4 linked regions of the Homo sapiens genome follow. The protein of the gene in region 3 purifies or fractionates together with the protein of the main gene of each other region. This does not show direct contact. Each region holds a gene or a part of one and is shown on either strand. Other genes may lie near its edges.

Region 1 (7,026 bases), on a different chromosome or scaffold from region 3:
AATATAGAAACACAGTTTCAGTCAACACAGTAATAATCAATTCAGCCAACAATCATGCTTGGGTACCTAAATAATTGGGTAAAGACTTTGGGGGAACAGGATTTTTACACAATTTCAAAAGTATTTCCCCACTGATGACTAATTAAAAGCAAAGACAAAGAGACTCTTAGAGTGTAAAAATCTAGTAAATACTATCCTAATTAAATGATTAAAGTTATTATCATTGTTGGACAAAATCACTGCCTTTTGATGTGATGCATTGAAAAGGGCCATATCACCTCAGTAATATTTCTACCAAAGTGTTTACCTGAGTCTCAGCATGAGGAAACAATCAGATAAATCCACATTGAAAGACGTGTAAAAGCGCTGGCCTGGATTCTTCTAAGGGCCAGATATCATGAAAAACAAGGCTAGACAGATCACTTAGTGGAAACCAAACAGACATCACAGCTGCAATGTGTGATCCTCAATTGGATCCTGGCAGCCTAAAAAACAAAAAGATGGCCAGGTGCACTGGCTCATGGCTGTAATCCCAACACTTTGGGAAGCTGAGGTGGGTGGATCACTTGAGGCCAGGAGATCGAGACCAGCCTGGCCAACATAGTGAAACTCTGTCTCTACTGAAAATACAAAAAAACATAGCCAGGTGTGGTGGCATGTACCTGTATTCTCAGCTACTCGGGAGGCTCAGGCAGAAGAATCTCTTGAACTTATCTCACGCCTGTAATCGCAGCACTGTGCGAGGCCAATGTGGGTGGATCACCTGAGGTCAGGAGTTCAAGACCAGCCTGGCCAACATGGTGAAACCCGTCTCTACTAAAAATATAAAAATTAGCTGGGCACGGTGGCTCATACCTGTAATCTCAGCACTTTGGGAGGCCGAGGCGGGCGGATCACCTGAGGTCAGGAGTTCAAGACCAGCCTGGCCAACATGGTGAAACCCCATCTGTACTAAAACTAAAAAAAAATTAGCCGGGCATGGTGGTGTGCGCCTGTAAGCCCAGCTACTTGGGAGGCTGAGGCAGGAGATTCACTTGAGCCAGGGAGGCAGAGTGAGCTGAGATCATGCCACTGCACTCCAGTCTGGGCAACAGAGAGAGACTGTCTCAAAAAAAAAAAAGGAAAGAAAGAAACAACATTGGGTGTTAGTGGTGACACTAGAGATAAAAAGGGGAGAAAGGCTTTTCAGTACTCTGTTTCTCTATATACATTTCCTATTGAAGAAGGCAAGGAATTTCTAATGAAAATTTCTATATATTGATAGCAGCATGATACAGATTTGGGTAGAATTCCAGCTATATATAACATGTCTTTTAAAAAAAGAAAGGGAGGAAATAAAAAGTTAGATGTCAGTGGAAATTTTTTTCAGGCAATGAAAATATGAATTTCTTTTCCTTTTCTCTTTTTTATATTTTCCAAGTTTTCTGTAATGAGTTTACAAAATTTTTCTGATTGACAAAAATAATGACCTTTTTTTAAATGCTTGATACCATTCTTTCTATGGGATTTGTCTCTGTCCCCATCCCTTTTCTCACCCCTCTCCCCACAAAAAGTAGAAAATTCCACAGATATTATTGTTCTGTTACTCATCAGCATGTAAATAACAAGAGGCTTTAAGTATATAAAATATGGCCAGGAGTATGCAATTTGAACAGGAGCACGTACCATTACACTGAAGGAAGAATGCAGAGAGAAGAGAAGGACACGCCCACCTCACCTGCTGCAGTGCCTTTTCCTTTCAGGGGGTCATAGGTGTGCTGTATCTTGTTTTCTGTACTGTTCCAAGCAGACAATCAGTATCTCATGATCCTCTTTCTACTCTTTTTTGTTTTGTTGCTTTTTTTTTTTTTTTTAAAGAATAACTGCACAAAGACTTGCCCACCTGAATAAGTGCTTGATGAACTTTAAGCTAGGGAATTTCAGCTATCAAAAAAACCCACTGAAATTGGGAGAGCTTCAAGGAAACCACTTCACTGTTGTTCTCAGGTAAAGAACTGCAGGTGGGAATGTAGACCAGAGGGTCTGGCCAGGGCATCTTGAGTATGTTACTCACGGTTGGTCATAAGGTCCTGGTGAGCTGGTACTAACAGAACAGGAGTGGCAGCAAGGGAGGGCAGAGCAGGGCCTGGCAGGGCTGGGAGAGCAGATACCTCTGTGAGAGCAAATACCTCTGTAGGATTTGTGTGGACACCTTGCCCCTTGAAAACCTAGTGCAGCCTTTGGAAAGACACCATCTCCTTCAAATATTGTAGTAAAAGACACCGAGCCGGCTGGGCGCAGTGGCTCACGCCTGTAATCCCAGCACTTTGGGAGGCCTTGGCAGGTGGATCACAAGGTCAGGAGATCGAGACCATCCTGGCTAATACGGTGAAACCCTGTCTCTACTAAAAATACAAAAAATTAGCCGGGCGTGGTGGCAGACACCTGTAGTCCCAGCTACTCAGGAGGCTGAGGCAGGAGAATGGCGTGAACCGAGGAGGCAGAACTTGCAGTGAGCCGAGATCGCTCCACTGCACTCCAGCCTAGGGGACAGAGTGAGACTCCAACTCAAAAAAAAAAAAAAGACACTGAGCCTGTGATTCCACTTAAAGCGCCTAGAATAGGCAAATCCATGGACATAGAAAGTAAAATAGTGGTTACTGGGGAAAGGGTAGGGTAGGGGTAATGGAAAGTTACTGTTTAGGGGTACAGAGTTTCATTTTGGAAACGGGAAAAAATTTGGGAAGTAGATAGTGGTGAGGATTGTCCAACATTGTGCATATAATTAACCCATTTATGCTAGTGTTCCATTATTGGAACACTAAGCATGTAGGAATTATTTATATCCTACTGCTCAAGGTCATCGCCAAGGTCTGATTGCAAAAATTCAAAAAATTGCAACCTCTGCCATAAATGGGTTAATACCGCCAAATTGCACACTTAAAAATGGCTAAAATAGTAAATTTGACATTATAAATATCTTACCACAACTTAAAGAAAGAAAGAGCCCTTGGGAGGTAGAGAGAAAGCTGCAGGAGAGTGAACGAAAGACTTGGAAGCCAGGCCGTAGTCATTTATGAGCTGCATCCCTGAGTATTTGACTGTAACTTTTTTTCCTCTGGATAATTTGTGTCCCTGTAGAAATATAACAGGAACTGATGACCAAGTACAGCAAGCTATGAACTCTCTCAAGGAGATTGGATTTATTAACTACTATGGAATGCAAAGATTTGGAACCACAGCTGTCCCTACGTATCAGGTTGGAAGGTTGGTATTTAATTTCTTTTATCAAAAATAGCTTTCTCATAAACAAAGCAGGGTTTGTTGGTGGTGGTGTTTTTAATTATTTCTACGTTCTCCCATGTCTGGGGCAAATGAACCACAGTTTCATGATTTTTGTTTTAAGTTAATGAGTGCACAGGGTAAAAAATCGGAGTTCAAAAGGATATGACCTGAAAAGTGAGCTTTCCTACCACTCTTGGTTACCCATCCAGGGGTTCTATTTTTATTTTTTTATTTTATTTTATATATTTATTTTTTCTGAGACAGAGTTTCGCCCTTGTTGCCCAGGCTGGAGTGCAATAGCGCAATCTCGGCTCACCGCATCCTCTGCCTCCCAGGTTCAAGTGATTCTCCTGCCTCAGCCTCCTGAGTAGCTGGGTTTACAGGCATGCGCCACCATGACTGGCTAATTTTGCATTTTTAGTAGAGATGGGGTTTCTCCATGTTGGTCAGGCTGGTCTCGAACTCCCAACCTCAGGTGATCCCCCGACCTCAGCCTCCCAAACTGCTGGGATTACAGGCATGAGCCTCCACACCCAGCTATTTTTTTTATTTTTTATTTTTTTGAGATGGAATCTTTGTTGTTCAGGCTGAAGTACAGTGGTGCAATGTTGGCTCACTGCAATCTCCACCTCCCAGGTTCAAGCAATTCTCCTGCCTCGGCATCCCAAGTAGCTGAGATTGCAGGCTTTTGCCACCACATCCAGCTAACTTTGTTGTATTTTTAGTAGTGGCGGGAATTTCACCATGTTGGCCAGGCTGGTCTTGAACTCCTGACCTCAAATGATCCGCCTACCTCAGCCTCCCAAAGTGTTGGGATTACAAGTGTGAGCCACTACGCCCAGCCCTATTTTTATTTTTATTTTGTAACAGGTAAGTCTTGGCTCAGTAAGTGATTCAACAGTAATCTGTTGGGTAACTCAGACCCAGAGTAGCCAGACAGAGATGTCACATTTTCTGATCTGTGTTAACACGTTTATTAAACTTTGATCTGCCCTTCCCTCGCTCTTAATTTTATTTTATTTTTTATTTTTATTTTTTGAGATGAAGTCTTGCTGTTGCCCAGGCTGGAGTGCAGTGGTGCCATCTCCGCTCACTGCAACCTCCACCTCCCAGGTTCAAGTGATTCTCCTGCCTCAGCCTCCCACGTAACTGGGATTGCAGGCATGCACCACCTCACCCAGCTAATTTTTGTATTTTTAGTAGAGCCGAGGTTTTGTCATGTTGGCCAGGCTGGTCTCGAACTCATGACCTCCAGTGATCTGCCCGTCTTGGCCTCCCTAAGTGCTGGGATTACAGGCATGAGCCACTGTGCCTGGGCCCCTTCCCTCACTCTTTAAAGAATGTAATAAATGATAAAATTAGTGACATGGAATTTAAGAATTGTCATTTACTTTTAAACAATTAAGAACCCCTCTAGGGTAACCTACAGTGGGAATCCCATCAATAAATAGTTGGGTTCCTAAATCTACTTCTGGAATCCTGTTGCCCAGCAGAGACTCTGTTACATAAACTAATTATTCGCGTGGGAGTTAGAATTGTGGTAGTTACAAGCTGGAAGTTATCTAAGCGTCCATGTTCTTCCTTGTCTTTCAGACCCTTCATGTTAGCAAACTTAGGCTTTGAGAGGTCTGCCTGAACTCATCAATTGCTTGGCTTTAGTTTGGGAGTAGAGTTTTCCGGGCTTCCAGTCCATTGTTTCAGCATCTAAACTATGAAGTTGCATTCATTTTTGTGATTTTAAAAGCGCAAAATGATAAAAATCTATATTTCCTCTGCCTCTTTGAGGAGGTTAAAAAGCTCAGGTGAAAACAGACTTGAGTTCTGAGGCTTAAATTACTCATCTGTAGAATGGAGATAATAATACCAATTCACAGAATGGTGAAAATGAAGTGAGATGATGTTTATGCTACATCTATTTTTATGCCTAGAATATAGTGATTGCTAATATGTTTTCAACCTTGCTAATGGTCAGAGGACATTGATAAAATAGTAAAAATGCTAATTGTATTATGGGACAGAATAAGGGAGCACTGTATCAACCTGTAAATTTGTAATTAATTTGGCAGAAGGACAGCCATGGAATCCTATACGTTGTGTATGCCAAAGATAGTGTAAATAAATATAAGTAATTAAAATGAGGTCAAATTTATCCCACAACAAAAATTACATAGCGTGACCAAAGGTCAGTACGGTCAGCTCAAAATTCCAAATCATTCATTTTCACAACATAAGAATATTTCCTGCTTTCAAGGAAACGCACTGTTAACACCATAGAATTTCCTGAGGGAAAAAACAGACTTTCAGTTTATATTGTATAGGTGGAGAAATGACTTGTATCCAAAATATTAAAAGCTCTTACAACTCAAGAACAGAAAGACAACGCATTCTAAAACTTAGCAAAGGGTCTGAACAGACCTTTCTTTAAATAATGTAATCAAATGGCCAATAAGCACACAAAAAGATGCTTATCACTAATCTTTAGGAAATGCAAATCAAAACCACAGTGAGATGCCACTTCTTACCCACTAGGATGGCTAAAATAAAAAAGGCAGAGAATAACAAGTGTTAGGATTAGAGAAATTGGAACCCTTATACATTCCTGGTGGAAATGTAAAATGGTATAACGATTTTGGAAAATAGTCTGACAGTTCCTCAAAAGGTTATAAAGTTAGCCTATGACCCAGGCATTTCTAGGTATATACTGAGGACAACTGAAAATCATATGTTCACACAAAAGTTTATACAGATGTTCATAGCAGCCAAAAGACTGGAAACAACCCAAATGTCCACCTACTGATGAATGGATAAACAAAATATACAATGTAATATACAATAATATACAGTGGAATATTACTTAGCAATAAAAAGGAATGAAGTACTGATACATTCTGCAACGTGAATGAACCTTGAAAACATTGCTAAGTAGGCAGGGCACAGGGGCTCATGCCTGTAATCCCAACAATTTAAGAGGCCAAGGCGGCAGGATCACTTGAGGCCAGGAGTTCAAGACCAGCCTGGGCACCATAGCAAGGCCCCATCTCTACAAAATAAAATTTTTAAAAAATTAGCTGAGTGTGCTGCTGCCTGGCTTTGGTCCTAGCTACTCAGGAGGCTGAGGCAGGAGGATCACTGAAGCCCAGGAGTTTGAGGATGCAGTGAACAGTGTACCACCACTGCACTGTGGCCTAGATGACAGAGCAAGACCCTGCCTGTGAATGAATGAATGAATCAATTTCTATGAAATTTCCAATGTGAGCAAATCTATAGAAAAAGAGCTGGAACAGGACCAATGGGGAGTGACTACTAATGGGACAGGATTTTTTTTTGGTGGGGGTGGGTAATAAAAATGTTGTAAAATTGTGTAATGCTCCACAGTTCTTTAAAAATACTAAAAGCCATTGAATTGTACACTTACATGGGTGAATTATATGTTATGTGAATTATTGAATAACTCAGCAAAAACTTTGAAAAAAAGAAAGTGAGCCAGGCACAGTGGCTCACGCCCGTAATCCCAGCCCTTTGGGAGGCCGAGGTGGGTGGCGGATTGCTTGAGGTCGGGAGTTCAAGACCAGCCTGGCCAACATAGTGAAATCCCGCCTCTACTAAAAATACAAAAATTATCTGAGTGTGGTGGCATGAACACCTGTAATCCCAGCTACTCGGGAGGCTGAGGCAGGAGAATTGCTTTAGCCCGGGAGGCAGAGGTTGAAGTGACCCAAGATTGTACCACTGCACTCCAGCCTGGGCGACAGAGTGAAACTG
Region 2 (7,026 bases), on a different chromosome or scaffold from region 3:
AGTTTTTCATTACACAGTTTTTCACATACTAAAGATACTTCTGAATTTCCTGGTTCAAGTACTGAATTAGCAGTCATCTTTCCTAGATTCCTTAGTAATGCAGTAAGCGGCATTTCTTGTAACAAAGCCTTCCATACCTATTGCAATAACATAGGCAGAAATACCAGGAATTAAGGGAAAATAAATCAGTATAACATACCTATATAAAAAAATATTCATAATACAGTCTCTGAGGCTTTCATTTGGGGTTCAAAGTACTTTCAGAATGAAAAATGTCTAAGTAAAAGGCTTATCAAATAAGCTAACTTGTTTTTTACTAGAAAAAGGATGTGAAGTATATTTTATGAAGGAAATGCATAGATGATTTTTTTTTTAATTAGCAAGGCAGTAGATTTTCTGGAGTGAAACTAACACAAATGCCACCTACATCATGTTGGACATCATGGTAGGTGTTTTAAACAGACATCAATTTCAAGATATATTTTAAATAATTTCTTTTTAAAAGTATAAATATATAGCTACCCCAAGTTTATCCTTTTAGCACCTACACTAAATTACTCATGTTTAATCACATGCTGTAACATATAATTCACTCACCTCTTTAGACTTTAAGTGATTTGTTAAAAGATGTTCTCTAACTAATCTATGTTCTTCTATTAGATGAATGACTTCTAGCTCATCTCTTGTGCGCTTCACTTTCTCTACAGCCTCCAGATACTTTAATAATTTTTCAGTCTCCACAGAGAGTGCTTTTTCTTTATACAATTCATGAACTTCTTTCCAGCCCTTTGTAATATATTTGGTCACAATTGCAAGTCCTTTAACAAGATAAAGAATTGAAAAAGCATGCAGGATTACCAAGTAAAAAAACAGAACATGTTTCCTCAAAATGCATTATATGATCAACATAACTGGATACACAAGAGTTAATGCCCTTACACTGGGATGCTGCTTTCCATGATATAACAATTAAGCAAATGGGGTGAATTAATTTTCTTATTCCATCATTACTATTTAAATATGAGACTTTAGAGTAAAAAAACCTGTATCCTGAGTATTTTGTTACAGAGGCTTTTCTTTCTTTTCTTTTTAAAGACACCAGCATTAGAAAGTTTCAGGTCCATAATCTCAGAACAACTCACGAGAGTACAGATCTATCTCAATTAATATTGTATTGTATTGTAATGTATTATATTATATTAATTATATTCACTTGTCTCTTTTTGCTGTTGAATAAAATATATATATTTACAAAAACAGCAGAAATAAGTAGAAGTGGACAGGGTAGCTTCTTTTACACTATGTTTTAATAGCTGAGAAGTATTACTGCTCAAAAAAAAAAAAAAAAGGAAACAGTAACTTGTTGATTTCCTCCACAATTTCTTCCAATAGAAGAAAGAGAAAAGAGCCTTGGATTGGGGGTGAGAAAGTCTGGGTTCTAGCCTATACTCTGCCAATAAATGGTGGTCTTTCTAGGTCTTAGTTTCACCACTTCTGTAAAACAGCAGGGATTGGATTACAACATTAAAATGTCTATGAGGGACAAGCAAATAAAATAAATAAAACCACCACGGTGAGGCCAGGCACCATGGCTCATGCCTGTAATGCTAGCACTTTGGGAGGCCAAGGAGTGTGGATCACCTGAGGTCAGGGGTTTGAGAACAGTGTGCCCAACGTGGCAAAACTCCATCTCGAAAGCTGAAACTGGATCCCTTCCTTACACCTTATACAAAAATTAATTCAAGATGGATTAAAGACTTACATGTTACACCTAAAACCATAAAAGCCCTAGAAGAAAACCTAGGCAATACCATTCAGGACATAGGCGTGGGCAAGGACTTCATGTCTAAAACACCAAAAGCAATGGCAACAAAAGCCAAAATTCACAAATGGTATCTAATTCAACTAAAGAGCTTCTGCACAGCAAAAGAAACTACCATCAGAGTGAACAGGCAACCTACAGAATGGGAGAAAATTTTTGCAATCTACTCATCTGACAAGGGGCTAATATCCAGAATCTACAAAGAACTCAAACAAATTTACAAGAAAAAAACAACCCCATCAAAAAGTGGGCGAAGGATATGAACAGACACTTCTCAAAAGAAGACATTTATGCAGCCAAAAGACATATGAAAACATGCTCATCATCACTGGCCATCAGAGAAATGCAATTCAAAACCACAATGAGATACCATCTCACATCAGTTAGAATGACGATCATTAAAAAGTCAGGAAACAACAGGTGCTGGAGAGGATGTGGAGAAACAGGAACACTTTTACACTGTTGGTGGGACTGTAAACTAGTTCAACCATTGTGGAAGTCAGTGTGGCGATTCCTCAGGGATCTAGAACTAGAAATACCATTTGACCAAGCAATCCCATTACGGGGTATATACCCAAAGGATTATAAATCATGCTGCTATAAAGACACATGCACACGTATGTTTATTGCGGCACTATTCACAATAGCAAAGACTTGGAACCAGCCCAAATGTCCAGCAATGATAGACTGGATTAAGAAAATGTGGCACATATACACCATGGAATACTATGCAGCCATAAAAAGGATGAGTTCATGTCCTTTGTAGGGACATGGATGAAGCTGGAAACCATCATTCTCAGCAAACTATCGCAAGGACAAAAAACGAAACACTGCATGTTCTCACTCATAGGTGGGAATTGAACAATGAGAACACATGGACACAGGAAGGGGAACATCACACACCAGGGCCTGTTGTGGGGTGGGGGGAGGGGGGAGGGATAGCATTAGGAGATATACGTAACGTTAAATGACGAGTTAATGGGTGCAGCACACCAACATGGCACATGTATACATATGTAACAAACCTGCACGTTGTGCACATGTACCCTAGAACTTAAAGTATAATAAAAAAAAATTAGCTGGGCGTGGTGGCACATGCCTGTAATACCAGCTACTCAGGAGGCTGAGGCAGGAGAATCACTTGAACTGAGGAGGCAGAGGTTACAGTGGGCCAAGATCGTGCCACTGTGCTCCAGCCTGGCCAACAGAGTGAGACTCTGTCTCAAACAAACAAACAAACAAACAAACACAGTGATGTAATAGAGAGTTGTTAGGGTGTGGTGACTGAACAGAGTGTGCCCTGACAAGTGGTGTAGACACGTATTGACTTAGTGCTGCCAAAAGAAAAAAAACTTACTTTCAAGAGAAGCCAGAATATGGGTTTTTATGTCGATTTTTAAAGATAATGACAAAGAATTCATTTTTACCCAAAAATATTGTATAGGCCACATGAAACACATCTCTATGCCAACTGAGCCTATTATGTTATTTTTGAATGCTAAATAACTTGATCAAAAGTTAACACTAACATGCAGGAACTTCTCAAGTATTGTGACTCTTGCTATCTTCCAGATTTTGGTGCAAAATCATCTTAAATGAGTAAATGTTTCCTGTGAGTATATCTTCTATTTTGTTTTTCCAGTGAAAATAAAAATTCCTTAAAGCAGTTTTATCCTACCCGGTTCTGTAATTGCGCTGGCCATGCAGTGGGTGCACAATAAAAATACCATACCTGATGACTTGAATCACATTTTGACTTGTTTTGTCTGTTATAAATACACATTACACTTAAAGGCATTAAAATACTATTAATTCTGTAGCTTAGAGTTTTTCCAAATTTTTAAGCTTTGAAATGCTAGGGATTCTCTGTCCAATGTGATATTGCTATTACTAACATGGTTTCAACTGTGAGTTCTGCCCTCAACAATTTCAAATTAAAGAATCCTATGTGTGGAAGTAAGTTTAGGAAACATCTACTAATTCCTCATTATATAGACCAAAAAGACAAAGCACAGAATAATTATTTTCACAAGTTCAGAAACTAATTGGTCCAGTTAGAACTAGTAATGGGCGGTCTTTCTCTTAGTCTAGTACTTGCTCCACACTTCCAAGACACATCTCAACAAACCAATAAATAAAGCTGGATGCCTAAGTCCTTCTTATGTTGGATCAAATATTTGGATAAAAAATTTAAATGTAAAAAATAATGTTTCTTAACCAAGAAAATGTTAGGAAAAAACCACAGATAAATATTTTAGGTTGGAAAAGGCCCTTCTAATCCTAACACAAAACATAAACCTATGAAGACATGGATAAATTTGACTACATTAAAATTCAAAACTTTAGTGTGCCAGAAATGTCCCCCAACCAAAAAAAAAAAAGACAAAGAAAAAAAAGAAGAAAAAATGCATGCACTGTATATAAATAATACATTATCAACTCCTCTAATATGAACCCCAAGTTCTTAGAACAGTTTCTATCCATAGTAGGTGCTCAATAAATATTTGCTGAGGGCCAGGCACAGTGGTTCATGCCTATAATCCCAGCACTTTGGGAGGCCAAGGCAGGCGGATCACCTGAGGTCAGGAGTTCGAGACCAGCATTACCAACATGGTGAAACCCTGCCTCTACTAAAAATACAAAAATTAGCAGAGCATGGCGGCAGGAGCTTGTAATCCCAGCTACTTGGGAGGCTGAGGCAGGAGAATTGCTTGAATCTGGGAGGTGGAGGTTACAGTGAGCCTAGATTGTGCCATTGCACTCCAGCCTGGGTGACAAAAGTGAAACTCCATCTCAAAATAAATACAACAAATAAATAAATAAATATTTGTTGAATGAATAGTGATCACAATCAATAGTTAAAAAGACAGTAACTAAGTGGACAAAAGGGCTATGATGTAATTGTATAATTATACATATATACACACACATACATATATATTATATATACATACATATAATTATATGCATACATATATAGGTATATATATGTATATAGGTATATATATATTACATACTATACTATATACTAACATTATATATTATATATACTATATTATACAATATATAGGTGTATATATATATATAATCAGCACATGCAAAGATGAGCTTCTGCCCAAAAATGTAAATTCAAAGAATCTTTCATGATTCTACTGAAAGAGATTAAAAAATAATGACAACAGTTAAGTGTTCAAATGTGGGTACACTGATCCCTTTCACATACTGTTTGTGGATTTAACCATTATGAAAGTAGGTACTCTATGCAAGTGTTTTCATTGTAGTATTTTTGTAACAGTATAAAAAAACCAGAAACAACTCTTGTCAATAAGAGACTAGCTAATAAATTACAGTCATACAATGGTATATATGCAACTATTTCTACTGACCTGAAAGAAACAGCAATAGCAATAGCAATAATATACTTTTTACTGAAACATAGAAGGCATGTAACAAAATTTAGTGAAACACAGTAATATATGTTTAGGAAAAATCTGGAGTAAATTACAACATCTGATATACAGCAAGGGCCCTCAACTCCCAGGCTATACACGGATACCAGTCCGTGGCCTGTTAGGAACTGGGCTGCACAGCAGGAGGTGAGCAGCAGGCAAGTGAGCTCCACTTCCTGTCAGATCAGTAGCTGGGCATTAGTCTCATAAGAGCACGAATCCTACTATGATCTGAGCATGTGAGGGATCTAGGTTGCGCTCTCCTTATGAGAATCTGATGCCTGATGATCTGAGGTGGAACAGTTTCATTCTGAAACCACCCTGCCCTCCCCACTGCCTGCGGAAAAACTGTCTTCCACAAAACCAGTCCCTGGTATCAGAAGGGTTGTGGACTGCTGATATGCAGTTATTTCTTTTGAAGAGTAGGACTGCATCATATTTTTCTGTATTATTCAACTATTTTAAAACATGTAATCTAATAAAATCAAAATAAAATGTTTATACATATAAATATTTGCAATTTATTATTTACATTTCATTTGAAAAACCCCAGTTATAGTTAAAAAATAAGTCAGGAATTACTGAAGAGATTCTGTATATAAAAATATGTGTGGAAGGGAGAAATAGAGAACCAAAGTGTACTTCTACTACATGTTAGGTGCTGGGACATTTAGTCTCAATAATTGTAAGCTTATTCTCCTTACCCTCCTTTTAATAGATGAAGGTCAGAAACTCAGCTTAACTTACTTGGCTTAAGTCCACAGAACTGAAATGTGAACCCACCCTTCTGAGTGGCTGTCTTTTCAAGTTTCACTTCCGGTGCAAAAAAAAAAAAAAAGTCAAATTTTGAACATGTTGATTTTTGTGGAACTTCACACTTCAAATTACTCCTGCCCAAGAGTTTTTCTTATTTCTTTTCTTAAAAGGACTAGTAATTATTACGGAGCCAACTAACTTTTCAAAAGTCTCTTTCCATAGATACAGAAAAACTGCCCCAAGTTATTATGTCCCCTGACTAACTGCCTGAAGACAATTAACTTCCTGAATTGTTAAGTTCAGCACTATATCTGGTATATTCCTTTAGGTTCCATGGAAGATGGGTTCCTAGGAAGATGGGGAGGGAAAAAAGGAATGGGCTAGAGCAGTGGGTACAGCATGGCCATCTGCCGCCTACTGGCAAGGAGCTGATTTGCTTATTGCAACTTTTTTTTTTTTTTTTTGCTTTTCTACTTAGCATTTTATTGGTTACAGAGTAGTTTTCTATACATAATCTTAAGGAACAGCTGTGTACAGTTACCTAAGTTTTACAAACGATTATACTGAGACCAAGTTTGAATATCTGATGAGTAACTGGCAAAGCTGGAACTCAAAAGCAGTTCCTTCTAGTGACTGTACCCATATCCAAGGCTTATTGCAACTTTTAGTCTTGCCCCTGCTACTTACACAGTCCAGAATCACTTGGGTGAGCATTCCAGTTAGGACGGTGGCATTTTAAGATTCAGAATATTAACCTATAAACCTGTCATTTGATTCTTGATTATTAATGTCTGGATCGCCTGTGGTAGGGGTGTAATCCCAGGAAGGCATTAAATATATTTGAATTAATGTATATTTTGAGAATAAAAGGCTATTTCTAGAAAATATTACACACTTGTCTTATGTTAAATAAAAATTTGCTATTTATTGAATATCCCTTACCCACCCTTCTTCCCAATGAAGATCTTATGCTTACCTTCACTGGAAGGTTTAAGATGT
Region 3 (7,412 bases):
TAGCATCTTCTCAGCAATATGTACTCAGTTGGTCCCTCCTTCCTTGAAACATTCCACTCTTTAGCTTCTATGGTGCCATATTTTCATAGCACCTCTCAGGGTCTGCTTATTCTAGCTGCTGTACAGGCTTCTCTTCTTTTATTCATTATCCAAAAAATTCGAATGCTAGAGGGGTCAGTCTGGGATCCTCCCATCTTTGTTGTCTATACTCTTTTTAGGAGAGCTCATATAATGACATGACTTAAAATGTCTGCTATATACTAATAGTTCCAAAATTTATATCTTTAACCCTGACTTCTTCAAACTCATACCAACTGCCTACTTGACATCTTTACCTTGATGTCTAATAAGCATTTCAACCTGAAACTGAGGGCTAACCTGATTTGGCCCACCAAACTTAACTTGTCTCATTTGTTTTTAGTTAATTTTAAAAGCTACATATTTAATAGCTAAAAGTCATGTAGCTAAGCAATATATACATAAAATTCCATTAGCTTCCTTACAGATTACATATCTGAGATATAGGTCACCATGGTAATGGTTGCTTGTTTTTCAGGAACTTAGAGTTAGCTCTTGTCCAGCTTAAGCCAGCTGAGACCAACAACTCTTCAACTGGGCCTGCATGAGTGTCCAATGGGTGACCTTTTGGCATCACAGGACCAAGAGCTCCACCCTCAGATCATGCTAAAGCTGCAATTTTGTGGACATGTGTCCTATGAAGAGCTATGAAGCTTGACTATGCTTGTGCACAGCACCAGTTGCCTCACTGTTTCTTACCCCAATTACCTTTCCCCATGCCTCAGACCACCTTGCTCCTTTATCCCGTAAATACCCTAAAACCCCATCTTTGGGAGCTGGATTTGAGATCTGTTCTCCTGTCTCCTCACTTGGCTGCTTCATGAATAAACCCTTTCTCTGCAGCAAAATTTGATGTCTCAGTGATTGGGCATATTGTGCAACAGGCAGAACAAGCCCAATTCAGTAACAAAACCAAATCTTCAAAATAGAGCAATGCTATTACCCTAGACTAAATGTTCTTAATATGAGGCTGGGAGCAGTAACCAGCCTCATAATTAAGAAGCTGTTTCGAAATGTAGGTGGGATTTTTCATTGTCACAGTGACTGGGGGTTGCTACTTATATTTCTTCTGAAATCTCTTTTTAAACTCAGCATTATGTTTGTGAAATTTATCAATGTCAATTCATGTAGATCTAGTTTATTTTTCTCACTGTATAGAATTTCATTATTTAATTATATCACAATTTAATTTAGTTACCCATTCTTTTGTGGTGAACATTTAGTTGATTTCCAGTTCCCTAAATTTACAAACCATATTGCTATGAATATTCTTTTTTTTTTTTTTTTTTTTTTAGCGACGGAGTCTTGCTCTGTCATCCAGGCTGGAGTGCAGTGGCATGATCTTGGCTCACTGCAATCTCCGCCTCCCAGGTTCAAGCAAGTCTCCTGCCTCAGCCTCCCAAGTAGCTGGGATTACAGGCACGTGCCACCATGCCTGGCTAATTTTCGTATTTTTAGTAGAGACGGGGTTTCACCATGTTGGCCAGGCTGGTCTCAAACTCTTGACCTTGTGATCTACTCTCCTCAGCCTCCCAAAGTGCTGGGATTACAGGCATGAGCCACTGCACCCCGCCCGAATATGCTTGAACATGTTTTCTTGTGTACAGATGTGAACATTGCTCTAGAGTATAATCTTTTTTTTTTTAATGAGACAGAGTCTTACTCTTGTCGCCCAGGCTGGAGTGCAATGGCGCGATCTTGACTCTCTGCAACCTCCACCTCCCAGGTTCAAGCAATTCTCCTGCTTCAGCCTCCCTAGTAGCTGGGATTACAGGCATGCACCACCATGCCTGGCTAATTTTTGTATTTTTAGTAGAAACAGGGTTTCACCATGTTGGCCAGGCTGGGAGTATATTCTTTAGAGTGGACTTTCTGCACCATCAGCTATGCACATCTTAAACTTTAATAGATATTATCAATTTGTTCTCAAAGTAATTGTACTAAGTGTATACCCAGAAAGATGGTCTTTTAGTGTACTGACTTACAAAGTTATGCTATGAGAGATGGATACCAGTATGAGAGAGAGTCCTCTCCTAGGTACTGTAAATGAAACATGAAGCTTCCTGGTCTGCCGCCAGGAATTCATTTTCCTCAGAGGGTGTGTCTGCATGGAACTCTGCTTCTGGAAGGGAACGAGGGAGAAAAAGAAAAGATAAGAAAAGGGTTGGACATGGTGGCTCATGCCTGTAATCCCAGCACTTTAGGAGGCTGAGGCGGGTGGATCACCTGAGGCCAGGAGTTCGAGACCAACCTGGCCAACATGGCGAAGCGCTGACTCTACTAAAAATAAAAAAATTAGCCAGGCATGGTGGCGGGCGCCTGTAATCCCAGCTACTCAGGAGGCTGAGGCAGGAGAATCACTTGAACCTGGGAGGCAGAGGTTGCAGTGAGCCGAGGTGGTGCCACTGCGCTCCAGCCTGGGCGACAGAGGGAGACTGTCTAAAAAAAAAGAAGAAGAAAGAAAAAGATAAAAAAGAAAAGACAAGAAAGGGAGAGCAAAGGACCAGGGACCTGATGAGAACATGAAATAAATGTTTTTTTTGCCGGTGTGACTTCTGATAATAGGCTGTACTGCAGTTCTGCCCAGATGTTGTGGGACATGAAGAAGCAGTTATATTTGTTTAGGTGGCTCTGTCTCTAGGCAGATTCTGACTCTTCTTTCTATTCCCAGTGTTAAGCCTCCATACCAGGACATTAACAGGCATGTAATAAACAGTTAGCTGAATGGATGAATGAGAGTACCCTGACACTGATATTATTTGTTCTGTTAAATACATATATTCTCACTGACTTGATCAAAACAAGAATTAAGGTTTCAATTGTGTCTGGCATAAAATAGAGAGTAGATAAATATTCTTTGAGTGGATAAAAGATAATCTAATTAATTTGAATTTAAACTACCTGAGCACAACCCTGTTAAATATGTTTTTTCTCATTGGCCTTAAGAAAAGAAAAAAGAGCCCAGAGCAGTTTGAACTATGTGAGGTATGCGGAATTTATCAGGCACAGAGAGATATGAGTTTGGGACTTCAGTCATGTCCCTACACCCCTGTATTAGTTAGTTCTCATACTGCAATAAAGACATACCCAAGACTCGGTAATTCATAAAGAAAAGAGGTTTAATTGACTCATAGTTCCGCATGTCTGGGGAGACCTCAGGAAATTTACAATCATGGTGGAAGGGGAAGAGGCATGTCTTACACAGTGGCAGGTGAGAGGGAGCGAGCAAGAGCAGGGAAAACTGCCCTATAAAACCACCAGGAGAACAGCATGGGGGAAACCATCCCCATGATCCAGTCACCTCCCACCCTGTGTGTGGTTCCTCCCCTCCACACTTGGGGATTATGGGGATTACAATTCGAGATGAGATTTGTGTGGGGACACAGAACCAAACTATATCAGTCGCCATGCTTGGGGGGCAATTGTTTCAAGTCACTTTGTCCCTTACTACCTGCTTCATCCATTTTCATGTTCTTCGAATTTGTGATACAAAGAAGAATGTATAGCCAATCAATAGCTTGTTATTGTAATGTAAGTTATCGGTAAACAATTTAGGAACTGCCTCTTCTTTTTTCTTTAAAAGCTACTTGTAAGTGCTGCTAATCAGAGCATATATTCAGGGCAATTTGAATCCATGCTCTCATGTGGCAGTCCTCAAACTTGGCTCAAATAAACTGTCTACTTATATTAATTTTGCCTCAGTTTTTCCCTTTAGGTTGACAATATTGCATCAAGTTGAATACTCACAGCAATTGTATGAACTAGGTAGTATTTATTACCGGCCCTATTTATACCTGAGGAACAGAGAAGTTGAACAACTTGTCCAAGATCACAGTTTCACAGCAGGAGGACCATTATTTGAAGCAGGCAGTCTGATTCCAGACACCCAGTTTTTACACGCTGTACTGTATTGTTTTCAAAACTCTAAGATTTCATGGATCTTTGATTTTTTTTTTAAATTTCACTTGTCCTTTTTTTTTTTTTGAGAACTACTACAACACGATGTGTGTGTGTATTCACACACATTTTTGGAAAATATCTGAAAAAAAACCCAAAGCACTTCACATGAATGGAGGGCCAAAGGAAGGGCTGGGGTACAGACGCCGTCCAGAAATACTTAAAAATAAATGTTTATACTAACACAAACTAGCAGCCATTCCCCTACAACCTGGAGTACTTTTTAACCCAATCTGTTTGGGATTGAGGGCGGGACTCCAGGGTCCCTGGGAGGCCCCGGCAGCCGCGCATGCTCAGAGCACAGGGACCGCTCCACCTCGTCCGTGGCCCTGCCCACCCAGGCCGCAAGAGCTGCCGGGACGGTCCCCATCTTCTTGGAGCGCTTTAGGCTGGCCGGCGGCGCTGGGAGGTGGAGTCGTTGCTGTTGCTGTTTGTGAGCCTGTGGCGCGGCTTCTGTGGGCCGGAACCTTAAAGGTGAGTAACTCTCGGTGGCTAATGAGAAGCTACAAAAGGGTCCGCTTTGCTGGTGCGCGACTGCGCGTTTCCGTTCTTTACTGCTTCTCGCGGCGTCCGTCCGCCCCTCGCCTTCCTCACGTTCAGGCCGAGCGCCGCGTGGGCCGCAGCCGGAGGCGGCGGAGCCGAGGGGGCGCGGGCGGCGGCGAGGCTGCCCCCGCGAGGAATGCGGGATCCTGGGGTTCCCCGCACGTGGCTGGTGCCCAGGCAGTTCCGCGGTTGCTTAGAGACGGGACTGTGGCTGCCCTCATCCCCATTGCGTCTTTTTTTTTTTTTTTTTTTTTTACCTCCACCGCCTTCTAGTCTCACCGAAGGCTTGTGGCCATCTCTGTAAAGTTTCTGGGGAGGTGGGCACGGGGTAAACGCCGGAGGGTTCTGTGGAGCCTATGGGACTGACTGGAGGCCAAAGAACTTTGGGCCGCAGATGTACACCAGCGTCACTCTTTTGGTCTGTTAGGGCCTTCATCGCTCACATCAGGTTTCAGTGTGAAACGGGAAAACGTGGGTAATATTTCATTTACAGTCGTACATTCTGGAAAAGTATCTGATGAAACGCAGTTCCAAAATTAGGCCAAATAGGTTTTGCAGGGTCTAAATAGTTATTTTATTTCATCGTTTGCTTTGTAGGGGGCCCTAGATCACGGTAGTAACTTAGGAGTGTAGATTGTGATAGACAAGACAATGCATAAAATTGAGTAATTTCTCTAGGGGGATGTGGATCACACAGTACCCCGTTGCAAGTGCTTCCTATGTGTATCCATGGTATCGAATGCAATTGCAGTGTGTCAGGGGATGCTTCCAGGAAGTGTACCTACATCAGTTCATAACTAGAGTCAACTAATGGCAATATTCTCGATGATTTGTTCACATAACTTTTGTACAGTTGGGATGACTGGGTGGCTTAGTAGAGTCCTGGAGGCAAGTACTTTGTAAGTAGAAGACTTGGTTTGTAATTTCTAGCAAACTAATAGCACAGCTTCCTTTTTTCATTGCAGTGCTAATGTCAGGAATACGAAACAGGAAACTGGCTATCCAATGTATTAGTAAATTAGTAGGCATACTCCCCAGTTTAATGTTGTGTTAGTATGACCACATTCTCCCATTTTTGTTTTCGTATGTTCCTTAGCATAGAGTATCTAAGGAACTGTAACATTTTTCACCTTAAAGTTATGATGTCTAACTTGGTAACAAGGTTTGGGTAAGTCAGTTGTGACTACATTTTAAAAGAAATGAGGCCGGGCGCGGTGGCTCACACCTGTAATCCCAGCACTTTGGGAGGCCGAGGCGGGTGGATCGCCAGAGGTCAGGAGTTCAAGACCAGTCTGACCAACATGGTGAAACCCCGTCTCTACTAAAAATACAAAAATTAGTCAGCCGCAGCCGTGGTGGTGGGCGCCTGTAATCCCAGCTACTCAGGAGGCGAAGGCGGAATCGCTGGAACCTGGGAGGCAGAGGTTGCAGTGAGCCGAGATCGCACCATTGCACTCCAGCCTGGGCAACAAAAGCGAGACTCCGTCTCAAAAAAAAAAAAAAAAAAAGAGGTGAACCCATACCAAACAAATGCACAGAGAGCCATGGTAATATACAGATAGATAGTTATCTGTTTAAAACTGGAAATGGTTGGTAAGTGATTGGAGTTTTTTTCCCTAAAGCTTGCTTGACCAGCTAAGTGAAGATAAACAGTTTCTTGTTATAGAAGATGGGGTAGTGATTTACTGAAAGACAAGTTTTTTATAGTTTTTAGATTTTTTCATCACTTATTCCAAAGTGTTGCTTTGTTGAGATATTTGAGAACTGAGTAAAGAAACTGAACCCGTGAAAATAGAAATTCTTGATTTTTTAAGAAAACGGGATATTAATACTTTGTAAACATTATCTTTCTATTCTTGAGTTTTATATAAAAAATAACTTTATGCTAATTTGGGAAATTTTACAGATAGCCGCAATGGCTGAAAATGGTGATAATGAAAAGATGGCTGCCCTGGAGGCCAAAATCTGTCATCAAATTGAGGTATGATTCCTGTGCTATAAACTGCAAAAACAAGTTCCTTGAAAGAAAATACAGAAAGAACATTTAATTCTAGTACATGGACATATTCAACATTTGGTTTGCCTTTGATTCTTAGATGAACATATAATAGCATACAGTTTTATATTGGTGGAGCCAGGTTGTGAAACTTAAGATGTACAAACATTTCAAAAGGTAACACTATAAACTAGAGTTACTTAATCTTTTTAAAATTTTAGTTTCATAGTCTCATATAAAATTTTAGCTTCATAGTCTCATATAAAATGAGAATAATAGTAGTTCCCTCCTCATAAGGTAGTTTGGAGGATTAGTGAATATAATGTTAAGTACTTAGAAGAATTCCTGACACATAAGTAACATAAAAGTCCTTGGTAAAGTACCTTCCCTGTTAAATAACACTATATTTTTGATGATCTTAGTTTTTTTCTGCCCAGTCAGTTCTCAGCTATTGTAACTTTAATATAGTTTTTTTTTTTTTTTTTTTTTTTGAGATGGAGTCTCACTCTGTTGGCCACGCTGGAGTGCAGTGGCACTATCCTGGCTCACTACAACAGTATTGGCTCACTGCAGCCTCTGCCTCCTGGGTTCAAATGATTCTCCTGCCTCAGCCTCCCAAATAGCTGGGACTACAGGAGCACGCCACCACACCTGGCTAATTTTTGTATTTTTAGTAGCGACAGGGTTTCACCATGTTGGCCAGGCTGGTCTCGAACTCCAGACCTCAGGTGATCTGCCCACCTCAGCCTCCCAAAGTGCTGGGATTACAGGTGTGAGCCACTGTGCCCAGCCAGTAACTTTAATATAGTATCTGTTTTCAAAACCCTCTTAGCATTTT
Region 4 (7,026 bases), on a different chromosome or scaffold from region 3:
TAACAAGAGAAAAAAAGGGTCACAAAAAGTCAGGGGCATATTCTCTGAGTAACAGCCATGAGAAATCTCCATCCCTGTAGAAAGAAACAGAGACATCTCTATTTTTATTTTGTTTTGTTTTTGAGAGAGGGTCTTACTCTGTCACCCAGGCTGGAGTGCAGTGGTGGGATCTCGGCTCACTGCAGCCTCGACCTCCAGGGTTCAAGCAATCTTTCCACCTCAGCTCCTGAGTAGCTGGGACTACAGGCACCTGCCACCATGCTCGACTGATTTTTATATTTTTTGTAGATACAGGGTCATGCCCAGCCAATTTATGTATTTTTTTTTGTAGAGACAGGGTTTCACCATGTTGCCCAAGCTGGTCTTGAACTCCTGGGCTCAAGCGATCTGCCTGCCTTGGCCTCCCAAAGTGCTGGGATTACAGGCATAAGCCACTGTGCCTGGCTGAGATAACTCTATTTAATGACTTCTAGTACTACTGCAAGGAAAGTCAAGTCTCGGGAGGGCAGCTCTTGGGACTGGCTGTAAGAACACGTACCTGATAATTTCTGAGCCAGGTTTCAGACAGCCTGAGGTTGATGACCCCTCCCCTCTCCCGCAGTTTTGTGTAGCATTCCAACAGAGGCTGCAGACAACAACAGAATTCTGTTAAGAACTACTTCCTGGGATGCAGTTTAAGAATCAACATTCAGACATAAGAATTCCTGCCCATTCCATTCCAGTATTACCTCTTTGTACTGACAGTAGACCACAAACGGCCTTGAAGGGGCCACAAAGTCCAGCAAAGACAGCAGCAGGGGAGTGGGGTGGAAACGACTAGCTACAATTAAACTGTAAGGAAAATGCCAGACAAATTATTTCTCTACACCCTCAAAGTGGAGCACAGGTTTTAAAATGCATTTAAAATGATCATGTATTTAATTTGCATGACTCACAAAGAGAAGAGATTTAAATATAACATTCTAGAAATCCAAAACAGAATACAATCATGAGCTATTTCTTTCTAGGAAACGCGAACTAGGTTAGAAGCTCTTGTGGTACTTGGCAACTCTAAGTCGCATTTAATGACATTCTTGATTTTTTAAAAAAAATCACCTGGAAACAAATCCAACACTGCATAAGCTGCTTTGTGGATATCTGTTATAGCCTGTATCGCAGCATTTGAGTGCCCCATCCCCTGCATCCAGTGGGACCACAGGGCCCATCTTGATGCAGTGATGGAGAAGATTCAATTTCTTCTGAAACCCTGAAACCAGCATCATCAATTCCCCACCCCTGCCAGCCTCAGCCTCCTTTCTTTAAAAAAACCCCCAAGACAAAATCCTCATCTCGGGTCCCACTAGAGTCAAAGCAGACAAGGAGAAAGAGAATGCCAATCTGTCTGAAGCAGAGCCCACATGCACTGAGGAGTCTCCTGCCTTCTTCCATCAACGCACCCATCTGCGTTTCTTTCACTCAGCAGAGCGGCAGCCTCTAAATGTCTTTTCCTCTGCTCTTCTTGTCTCCTCTGTTTTTCCTGAATCTTCAAAAAGAAAAATAAGAAATCAATGTACTGGGGTCTTTCAGTCAAATTTATGGAAATGCTCTGGCCTGTCAAAACATTTCAACAATATTTATCAACTTGGACTAAACCAATAGAAGCAGGTTGTTTATAAGGAAGTTGCAAATACACAAGAAAGCCTATATACTATAAAAACCATGATTAAGCTATCTATGCAACGCTTCTGTATCCTAAAGCTCCATCCCGAAGACCGAATCACACGTTTGTATACATGTACACACACTCGTTCTCTGTTTTGATAGTTATCATCTTGGGAGCTAATACACCAAAGCCAAACTAAATCTCATGACTTAACTGAAGTTAACTGAGGGACTGAGATTATGGGGGTGGTGGGGACTCTTGGCATCCTTACATAATCTTTTTTGCTTCCTCTCTCTTTAGGCCCCTTATGTTCTGGATCTTGAGAAATTGTTTCCATTGTTTCCTGGTCTTCTGGGTGGTTGCTCTCTGGGGCCTCTGCCATGCTGTCTTCATTCTCTTGTTCAGAAGCCTGTTTTTCCTCCAGTGTGCCATTACTTTCTTCAACCAAAGCACTGTCTTTTGGCTCTGAAGATAACATCTTGGCAGAAAATGTTCCATGTAGAAGACTGTCCACTTTGTTGAGAGGGAATTCATAAAGACCACTGAGAAAAGATTTGGGAAATCCAAAACATGCTGTTGCTGCCCGAACAGGTCCTCCTCCAGGGTATAGCTGAATAATGGAGCCAAAACCTGAACAGATAAAAGAAACAAACATCTGCCCGTGGAGTGACTCTAGACTACGTAAACCCTCAGTGAGTCCTCCACAGTAATGAGACTGAAGGTCTTTCTATTAGTACTTTATTCAGAGGCTGAAGGATGGTGCAGCTCCTCAGGGAGTCTGTTTGGAGTCTATGAGTATTACCAATGGAGGTAATATAATTCTAAAGCAGATAGCAGGAAGACTCAAAGAAGCTTATCCCCACTTGATACTATTGTAAAACCCTGTGTCTGCAAATTTGGATGTCACATGATTGGTGACGGACTCTGCTTCCCCTCACTCCGATCCTCAAATGGAGCAGTTACAAGTTCTTACCTTCTATGGGGTCAGAAAAAAACCAGACAAATCAGGCTGTGTTGTATTCTTCCAGAGAGAATACATGCTTAGTAATCTTCCCACTCAATCCCTTCAATTTAGGCCCAATGAAATGAGCACCAGCTACCCAGGAGTTTACTAAAATCACTGTCCCGAAAGCCCTAGCCAGCCACAGGCTCCAGCATCATGCCCACTGACAGTGAAGCTAGAAAGGACAATTGCCATGGGTTTGGGGGTACCCATGGGTGGGGGGCTGGGTGATGGAGACTGTGTAAGAAGGTCCCCATGCTAGGAGCCGTGCAGGTTCACCCAAGTCACTTTGTTAACCCTGAAGTAATTCAATTTGGCTTTCCATGAGTTTACATTTTTGGACCACCTTTACTCACATCAGGGTGGGGTTTTGTTGAAAATGGAAATATTAAATCTTACCTCCCATTCGTTCCATCATTGCACCCAGCACCAAGCCTGCACACGTTTCCATCACAATCATTTTGTTGCCAGCACGGATATTTCCCAACGTCAACATCTGGGCTAGTGTATCGTATCTCATGTGGCTAAAGTAAAAACAATAATTTGTTCATTTTTAGCTAAGTAAAGCCTATTATTTTAATCATCATTTTTCAAGTTTTGTTTGCTTTATTAAAATTGTGTTGATAAGATTATTGATTGCTTTGGAGGTGACAGTAAAAGGACTTACAATTTATGAGGTAGGAGGATACTTTATGCAGGTGAGCAAGCTTTTTCATTTTACTTAAAATCATGACTTTCTTAAAGACATATTTCCCCCAATTATACTTTTGAAAGGAAACAAAGCGTACTTAATTTTTCCAGGTTCTCTTGCATAATACATAATTGAAAGAATACGGGTGGATGGCTTCACAACAGTAATGATGGCTTCATATCTGGGGGAAGAAAAAACAGAACGCTGATTTAAAAAAATGACTTAAAATATTTTATTTGTAATAAAATGTATATTTTATAAACATATAAGAAGTTTAATATTGTGGGCCTTTTAAAATAAAAACTACTTACTTTTTTTTCTTCTTTTTAATATATTTATCTTGGGCAAATTCTGTCTTGTCTCGGAATGTTGTACTATTTTCAATTAACTGCTGAACTATTTCCTATAAGAAAAGGAGCAAGTAGATTTTCTGAAACTTTACTTTCACAAAACAAGTAATTTCCAAAGGCTTCTTACCCAAGAATGGATCCAATGGTCTGATTCTCCAATCCCTTTTCCACAGAAGTCCAAATAGATGAACTTTATATTTCTATACTCTATTTGGAATTTATAATAAAATACAAGTACTTTATAACTCCACTTAAACCAACGTAAAAGAACAGAGATATCCAACAAAAGGAGAAGAGAGGTAAAGGAAACTAATTTCTGAAGACACTGGCTGAAAACATTACTGAAAATGAACAAAGTTAAATCCTGATATGCACTGTTATTACATTCTCTACCACTGACATTAGTAATGTCATTCACTTATATTCCTGTATATAAGACATAAAATCTTTGAAATGTTGAGTAACATGTACATTTCAACCTATTTCTATCAAAGCTATAACGTTATTTTTTTGTTTTACCTTAGGTACAGTCTGCTTTAAAAACCCAACAGTTTCCTAAATGCCAAACAGACAAAAACAAAACTAAAAATCCTTTGAATATTACCTCTCCTTTAATGCCCTTGTCCTTCAAAGCTTTTATGTCATCTTGAGTAAGTTTCTGAGATTTCCCATCATCAACTATATTTCGATTATCAGTGCCCGCTTCTTTAGTCTCTAAGGAAAGAAATTGCTCTATTGACATTTATGGTCTGAAATTATTTGACACTTTCTTTTTCTGAGTTCATATCCACATCCAGTCCATCAGCCACTCAAGTCTGGCCTCCCAGCTGCACTGCCCCCATCACACTATCCTTTCCTGCCAAAACTACTCCAAGCCTCTAAGTCATCTTCCTGCTCCCAGTCTTGCCCCCCTACTATCCACCTGGATGCCAGAGTGCTCTTTGTTTAAATGCAATTTGACTCATCTACCCCATGCTTAAAACCATACAGTGGCTTCCCATAGCAATAAGAATACACTCCAAAGATGACCTGCAAGGTCATAAATGATCTGGCCCCTGCCTATCATTCCTGGCCTGATCTCTTGACACTTTAGCTTCAGCCACAATGGCCTTCTTTCTGTTCCTTGAACACACCCAGCAAGGTCCCACAGCAGGCTTTTGGCACCTGCTGCTTCCTCTGCCTGGAAGGTTCTACGACAGATGTCTGAGTGGCTGGATCCTTTCTATCACTTGAGGCTGAGCTCATTCTCTTGCTTTACCAAATTAGTACACGCCCCTGCTTTATTATCTTCATAGCATGTGTCACTTCACCATCAGAAATCATGCTGTTTGCTTGTCTACTTGATTATTTTTGGTGTTCCAACTGGTAAGCACATTTTATACGACAGTCTATCTTATGAACTGCTATAATTGCAGCGCCAAATTATACCTGGCATATATTTGGTGCTTAGTAAAAATATGGATATTAATTTAAATGTATCTAAATAACAGGTTTGACTCAAAACTTTAACAGTATTTAACTTCAAATAATTACTTGTGTTTTAATTAATAAGATACTCTCAATGTTCATTTTAATAAATATAATTTTAATTAACAATAACAGCTTTTGGACAAGAGGTTGTTAAGAAATAATAATAGTAATAGCTAAAATTATGGGCCCTTACTAAAAGCAAGACACTATTCAGAACTTCCTATGAGTCATATCATAGAACACTCAATACAACCTAGGCATTAAATGTGTTTATGACCCTATTTTACATATATAAGGATATAAGACTCACAGAAATCAAATAAGTTGCCCAACGGTACAAGGCAAGTGATGAAGGTAGAAATTGAACTTAGCTGGATCCAAAACCAGACCTCTTAACCTCTACACCATATGCTAACCACCTCACAGCTGTTACATAACTTCTGGGCACTGAAAGAACTTTACATTATGTTCTTGCAATGACGCAGCAACGACTCATAGGATTAAATGCCTGGCCCAAGAACAGAGAACCATTTAATGGTGGGCTGGAGCCAGAATCCAGGTTATCTCATGGCCAAAGGCAGTACTTGCTTCACTCCACTGAGCTGCAGTTCTTAGATTATGAGTTAAGATTTCTTTTGGGATAGCATGGCCTAGCACTTGGGAATTAGGTGGAGGCTGAGATGTTTCTGACTAGTCAGTTGGAGAGCATCTATTTCACGCATCCAAAATGTGCACCTGCAGTAGGCTCTTCCCTCTTCTTCTTGGGCTGTAGACTTCCTCCACTGGTCACTTCAAATGCAGTTCCATAACTATGGCCAATGACGTTATCCAGGTAGAACCACTGTTTTTCGAAAGTTACTTTTCTAGGGAAAAAAAGTAATCAATTAACTGAATATCTTTTCTATCCAGTACAGAAAAGACATGTTCACTACAGTTTATTTCAAAAGTGGTCTCCACAATGGATGATCAGCAGCATTATCTCTGAACATAAAGCAACAAAGGAACTAGAGAGAACCTGGTTGGGATAGAGACGTAAAATTAATGAATAAGCCACAAGAACACTGAATTTTGGAAAGGGGAAGCAAAGACTCATCGAAGTAACAAGGATTTAACAAATTTCTTGGGCTTGGTCTGATCGGCCATTTTATTTGAAAATTATCTAATAAAAGCAAATTATACTTGCAAATAAACACTGACAATCTACACACTTGGAAATGGAGCCTAACACTGACAATGCTCTACTGAGGACCAGGCAACTTGAGGTTTCCTATGACATAGATTTTTTATCTTATTGCAATTTAAAAGAGAAATCCCACAGGAACACAATGCTTTCTTCTCAAAAGAAAACTAACATCTGCTGAGTGCCAACCAGGGGCTAGGCAGTGTGTGCGAGGTGTGATTCACACTTTTTGATTTAATTCTCACGGTAATCCTGGGACATAGCTCTTTCCAGAAGAGCAATCCGAGGCCCAGGGAGAAGTATCTTGTCCAAGATTCACAGTTGCAAGGTGTTGTTGGAGCTGGGATTCAAATTCAAATCTGTGTCTGACCCCAAGCCTCATTCTTTCCACTATACCACACGGTCTACTCCAGCAAAGACCTAAGGACGGTAGAAAGCCCACCTAGCTTCAGGACATGGCCCATGTGCACAGAACACTGAATTCTGGGAATCATGTGGTGGTTAATTCTGATTGTGCCCCATCCCACTCCTTCTCTTCCTTTCTCTGTGCCACCAGGAAGCTGATTACGACAGAATATACTGCCACATCACCCACGCTCCCGTGTCAGAGGCTTACCACCATTGCTGGTCTCTGGGTGTGTCACCTTTATTGGTTCCCTAAATCGGCCACACTTTTGAGTCACATCTTCA

The links.
Region 1: the proteins of SSB (region 3) and PUS7 purify together in Homo sapiens (affinity purification with mass spectrometry; 2 studies listed by BioGRID and IntAct, with this or other methods). This does not show direct contact.
Region 2: the proteins of SSB (region 3) and RO60 purify together in Homo sapiens (affinity purification with mass spectrometry; 3 studies listed by BioGRID and IntAct, with this or other methods). This does not show direct contact.
Region 4: the proteins of SSB (region 3) and TRMT6 purify together in Homo sapiens (affinity purification with mass spectrometry; 2 studies listed by BioGRID and IntAct, with this or other methods). This does not show direct contact.

The regions. Positions count from the first base shown.
Region 1 is NC_000007.14:105,477,272-105,484,297, reverse strand, and holds part of PUS7 (pseudouridylate synthase 7 homolog), read left to right. Parts: intron 1-1,857; coding exon 1,858-1,986; intron 1,987-3,120; coding exon 3,121-3,246; intron 3,247-7,026. UniProt on the Homo sapiens protein: Pseudouridylate synthase that catalyzes pseudouridylation of RNAs.
Region 2 is NC_000001.11:193,069,612-193,076,637, reverse strand, and holds part of RO60 (RNA-binding protein RO60), read right to left. Parts: coding exon 7,004-7,026; intron 6,085-7,003; coding exon of another isoform or gene 6,019-6,084; intron 819-6,018; coding exon 598-818; intron 138-597; coding exon 1-137. UniProt on the Homo sapiens protein: RNA-binding protein that binds to misfolded non-coding RNAs, pre-5S rRNA, and several small cytoplasmic RNA molecules known as Y RNAs.
Region 3 is NC_000002.12:169,794,468-169,801,879, forward strand, and holds the start of SSB (lupus La protein), read left to right. Parts: upstream 1-4,403; 5' UTR 4,404-4,509; intron 4,510-4,834; exon of another isoform or gene 4,835-5,049; intron 5,050-6,484; 5' UTR 6,485-6,493; coding exon 6,494-6,559; intron 6,560-7,412. UniProt on the Homo sapiens protein: Binds to the 3' poly(U) terminus of nascent RNA polymerase III transcripts, protecting them from exonuclease digestion and facilitating their folding and maturation.
Region 4 is NC_000020.11:5,940,515-5,947,540, forward strand, and holds part of TRMT6 (tRNA (adenine(58)-N(1))-methyltransferase non-catalytic subunit TRM6), read right to left. Parts: intron 6,020-7,026; coding exon 5,892-6,019; intron 4,401-5,891; coding exon 4,291-4,400; intron 3,740-4,290; coding exon 3,648-3,739; intron 3,518-3,647; coding exon 3,434-3,517; intron 3,170-3,433; coding exon 3,045-3,169; intron 2,273-3,044; coding exon 1,914-2,272; intron 1,523-1,913; coding exon 1,437-1,522; intron 832-1,436; coding exon 729-831; intron 626-728; coding exon 539-625; intron 1-538. UniProt on the Homo sapiens protein: Substrate-binding subunit of tRNA (adenine-N(1)-)-methyltransferase, which catalyzes the formation of N(1)-methyladenine at position 58 (m1A58) in initiator methionyl-tRNA.